2 separate regions of the Homo sapiens genome follow, and region 2 is linked to region 1. Evidence: fine-mapped expression QTL. A gene starts in region 1. The other region holds a variant in brackets. All regions are shown on one strand. Distances are between the middles of the regions. Region 1 holds the start of CHMP3 (charged multivesicular body protein 3). Region 2 overlaps RNF103-CHMP3 (RNF103-CHMP3 readthrough).

Region 1 (2,500 bases):
AGGAAGTGAGAATGAGGGTTTAACTTTTCACAATGAACAGGCAGTGCTTTTTTAAAAACAACTTTATTGAAGTATGATTGGACATAAAATAAATCGCACATACTTAGTGTCCAACCTGGTAAGTTTTGATATTGTATACATCTGTGAAACCATCATCACAATCAAGATATTATCCATCATCCCCCTAAACTTCGTGTCTCTTTGTAATCCCTCTTTTCTGCCTCTTTCTGACCCCACTCCTATCCGCTAGCAACCGCCCATGTACTCTCTGTCACTATGTATTAGTTTGCATTTTCCAGAATGTTATGTAAATGGAATCATACGGTTCTGGCTTCTTTCACTTGGCAGAATTATTTTGAGATTCATCCATGCTGTTGCATTTATCAATAGTTTACTTTTTTATTGCTCAGTACTATTCCTTCGTATGGATCAATCACGACTGGTTTATCCATTCACTTGTTGATAGACATTTGGATTGTTTCCAGTTTATGGCTATTACAAATAGAGCTGCTATGAACATTTGTGTACAAGTCTTTGTAAGAACATATGCTTTTTTCCCTCTTGGGTAAATAGCTAGGAATGGAAGGCTGGCTTTGTTTAGCATTTTAAGAAATTGTCAAAATGTTTTCAAAGCTGCCGAACCATTTTATGATTCCACCAGAGACAGGAGTATGGGGCTGAGGTAACAAATGGTCCCCTTCACCATCCTCGGATGAGTTAATGACAGTAACCATCAGCTCACCGTATAGGCCTAATCAGGAACTGTCCGTGCTAAAATGTGTCTAGTTCTCTTTAGTCAGATTCCTTTGAGAGTGTGATTAAGCTCACGGTCAGTGTGGCGTGTAGGACGGGACACACATGGACAAATGCTAGGCAGGAATCGCCCACGCTGGAAAGGGCGATGGCCTGAAAAAAAACGACCGCAGTTGGGATGGAAAGGGGAGGGTTGAAGTTCAGACATATTGAAGTTAGAATGGTTGGGACTTGGTAAGAGGGGAGAGAGGACGATGCCTAGGGTTTAGTGACCAGGTGATGGTGGTGCAAGCAGAGGGGAGGAGTGGGTTGGCGGGAGGAAAAAGAGGTTATTTTTGGTTTGTCACCTGTGAGTTGCCTACTGGACACAAAGATGAAGCTGTCGGGAAAGTGATGCTAAGTGTACACGTCTGCGTGGAGATCCAGACTTCTGGTGCAACATCTAGGTTTAGGTGAAGTATTAGAAGCAGTTGTAGCCAACAAATTCGTATCTTTCAGAGCAATCATTTCTACACCTTACGAAAAGCACCGAATCCGTGGTCTCCCCCACACAGACATGACCAGAACATGTGCGATGACGTCAGCCTTTTTGACTAGTCTCCCACTCACTCGATTCTGCGCAGGCGTATGGCGCATGCGCAACATCCCCTAGTGCCGCCGCTCCCTACTCTGGGGGTTGGGACTACCTCCTTTTCCGCGGGCCCCGCCCAGGCGGCTGCCCGTGACCTGCCTGGGCGCGGGGAACTGAAAGCCGGAAGGGGCAAGACGGGTTCAGTTCGTCATGGGGCTGTTTGGAAAGACCCAGGAGAAGCCGCCCAAAGAACTGGTAAGGGCTACGGCGGCGGCAGATAAGCGGGTGGATCTGTGTGGGGCGTAGTGAAGTTGGTAAATGACAGGACACTCTTCTCCCCACCGCCTGCCCGATACCGCCCGGCCCCCATTTCCGGGGACTCCCACTCGACAGGGGGGCCGGAGGAAGAGTCTTTAGGAGTCGGCTGTGGGACGCGAGAGCTCCTGGTGCCATGGCTCTCGAACAGGTAGCCGAGGGTGGATGAAGAGTTTCTCCACCTCGCCACTGAGCGCGTAGGCAGCGACACCGTCCTGGCCTCGGAAACCTCTTCCCCCTGCGCGCGTTGGTACGACCCGCCCGGAACCTTTTCCCAGCGTAGGCCCCACCCCTCCAGCCCGGCTGCGGACCACCCGGAGAACCTTCTCCTGCCCGAAGCGTTGTTTGGAGCGGGCCGGGTCGCGTCTGCCGGAGGAGCCGTCTGTTCTCCGTCCTCCCTGTTGTGTTGAAAAAGAGGCTCAGTTTCCTCTTTCCCCAGCCCTTGTGTTGACCCTAGGCACATACCGTAGCGGGGCAGGGACTCGACCCAGAAGAATGTTACAGAAGATAGCTCTGGACCCGGCTTCGAACTCTCGTTACCTATTAATTGAGATAATATTGGGAGGCAAACAGTTGAAAATGCCCTGCAGTCAGTCAACCTAAGTTTGAATCCTGCCTTCCCACATCTCAGCTCTGTGATCTCTGGAAAGTTCACTTCTCAGTGCCTTCTCGACTGTGAAGCCAGAATAATAGTAGTGTCACCTCAGAGTAATTGAAGATTCAGGGATGTAAAGTTTTCATATTGGTAGTTAGGGCTAATTCTTTAAATACGGCACAGCTTTGCTACTCAAATGCCAACCAGCAGCATCAACATCACCTGGGAGCTTGTTAAATCTCGGACACCACTCCAGACCCACTGAG
Region 2 (2,500 bases), 22 kb before region 1:
CATCACCAAGTTATATCATCACCAAACCCAAGGTCATCTAGATTTTCTCCTATGTTATCTTCCAGTAGTTTTATAGTTTTGCATTTTACATTTAGGTCAATGATCCGATTTGAGTTAATTTTTGTGTAGGGTGTAGTCTGTGTCCAGATTCCTTTTTTTTTTTTCAATGTGGATGTCCAGTTGTCCCAGCACCATTTGTTGAAAAGACTATCTTTTCCTCCCTTGTGGTGCCTTTGCTCCTTTGTCAAAGATCAGTTGACTGTACATTCAGCCCTTCATATTCGTGGGTTCCACATCCATGGATTCAACTAAACATCGATCAAAAATATTAGAAATATACTGAACATGTTCCCTAAACAATGCAGTGTAACAACTTATTTATTAGGTTGGTGCAAAAGTAATTGTGGTTTTTACCTTTGAAAGTAATGGCAAAAACTGCAATTACTTTTGCACCAACCTAATACATAGCATTTATGTTGTATTGAGTATTATAAGTAATCTAGAGATGATTTTAAGTACCCAGGAGGATGTGCATAAGTAATATGCAAATACTATGCCATTTTAAATCAGAGACTTGAGCATCCGTGGGTTTTGATATCTGCAGGAGGTCCAGGAACCAATCCCCTGTGGATACCAATAGACTATTTTATTTATGTGGGATTATTTCTGGGCTGTCTATTCTGTTCCATTGGTCTATTTGTTTATTCTTTTGACATTATCACACTGTTTTAATCGTGATATTATTATTGTAGCTTAAAAATAAGTCTTGAAGTTGTATAATCTTAGTCCTCCAACTTTGTTCTCTTTCAATATTGTGTTGGCTATTCTGCCTATTGTCCCCTGCATAAATTTTAGAATTTGTTTGTTGATATTCACAAAATAACTTGCTGGGATTTTGATTGAAATTTCATTGACTATTGATCAAGTTGGGAAAAACTGACATCTTGACAATATTGAGTCTTCCTATCCTATAGAAGATCTTTCAATTTATTTAGTTCTTCTTTGATTTTTTCCATCAGAGTTTTGTAATTTTCTTCATATAGATCTTGTACTTACTTTGTTAGATTTACATCTAAGTACTTCCTGGGGAGGGGTTGCTGATGTCAATGTTATTGTGTTTTAAATTTCAAATTCCACTTGTTCATTGCTGTATGTAGATGCTCCTTGACTTACGGTGGA[G/A]TTATGTACCAATAGACCCATGTTGAAAATGTTGTAAGCCTGAAATGCAGCCCAGAGAGTCTCTGGACAAAGAATCACCAGTGGTTAAAATCTGAAACTTCATGGTTGCCAATCACTTTTGCCCCATTGTAAGTTGAACCATTGTAAGTTGGGGACCATTTGTATAGGAATGCAATTGATTTTCATATATAAACCTTGTATCCTGCAACCTTGTTATAATTGCTTATTAGCTCCAGAAGGTTTTTTATTTTCTCTTTTTTTTTGTCAGTTCTTTTGGATTTTCTACATAGATGATCATGTCATGTTTGAACAAAGATTTATTTCTTCCTTCCCAATCAGTATACCTCTTACTTTCTTGTCTTATTGCATTCATTGGGACTTTCAGTATAATGTTGAAAGGAAGGATAAGAAGGGACATCCTTGCCTTGATTTTGATCAGTATACTAGAAATTTAGCTGAACAAATACCCAGTTGTTAACTATATTTCTCAACCCACATTGTAGCTAGGTGTGGGCAATGTGACTAATTCTTGCCAATAGAATGTAAGCAAAAATAATGCCTGCCGGTTTTGGGTTTTGACTTAAAACATTGGGTATGTGTGTTATTTCTTTCTCTTCCTACTTCTAACCTGCTAGATATGTTAATAATGGATGCAACCTTGAAAGTTAGGTATGACTGGCAGACACAGTTGCTTAGCCAGCCAATGTTTCTGCATGACTTCACAGAGCAGAGCTGCCCTACTATGGAAATTACTGGATTATTCCACAAAACAGAAATAAACTTCTATTTTATTTAAGTCATTGCATTTTGAGGTATCTGTTATAGCAGCTTAGCCTTTAACTATGACAGCATCTTAATCACACCATATCCAAAATTTGCTAGTCATCTTTCCACCTATATATTGTATGCCATAATGCCAGTCTGAGTAAAGGCCCCTGTAGTCATCTAATCTTCATTCTGCTCTCAACCCCAACATCCAGTTTTCCCAAGTGCAGTGCTACCTCTTAAAATGACTCAGGATTTCTACTTCTGGCTGTGATGGAGTAATTGGCACTGGACTAGTCCTCTTGCTACAAATAACTGTAAAACCAGACAAAAATACATGAGATAGCTGTTTTCAGGCAATGAATAACAGGAAGTACAAGATAAGTACAAGATTGAGATCTTTGAGAGAAAGGAAACTAACAGGGTAGGCTCCATGATTACTCAGCTGTCTGCATAGGACAGTTTCCTGACTGCAGTGCAAAAAGCTTGAGTCCAAGCAAAGCGTGGTGGTTCCTATGAGATTCAGCCATAATGCTGCATGTATCCATAGTTCTTT

The links. PIP is the estimated chance that this variant, and not a neighbour inherited with it, causes the effect. A credible set is the group of variants that fine-mapping cannot tell apart.
Region 2: its variant is the best candidate, but not a certain one, in a credible set for the expression of CHMP3 in sun-exposed skin (GTEx, PIP 0.61).

What each region holds. Positions count from the first base shown.
Region 1 is chr2:86,562,383-86,564,882 of GRCh38, reverse strand. It overlaps CHMP3 (charged multivesicular body protein 3), which reads left to right and starts at 1,440. Exons shown (of 6, transcript NM_016079.4): 1 at 1,440-1,579. The coding sequence starts at 1,535. All of the region lies in intron 3 of RNF103-CHMP3 (RNF103-CHMP3 readthrough), which reads left to right. It overlaps CHMP3-AS1 (CHMP3 and RNF103 antisense RNA 1), which reads right to left. Exons shown (of 6, transcript NR_183901.1): 2 at 1,963-2,037; 3 at 1,484-1,615; 4 at 1,101-1,195; 5 at 743-906. RefSeq lists enhancers at 1,065-1,124, 1,283-1,577, 1,735-1,834, 1,845-2,014.
Region 2 is chr2:86,584,106-86,586,605 of GRCh38, reverse strand. All of the region lies in intron 3 of RNF103-CHMP3 (RNF103-CHMP3 readthrough), which reads left to right. All of the region lies in intron 5 of CHMP3-AS1 (CHMP3 and RNF103 antisense RNA 1), which reads right to left. Among named protein-coding and RNA genes, the nearest start is that of CHMP3, 22 kb to the right of the region's middle. The variant G/A (reference allele first, on the strand shown) is at 1,180.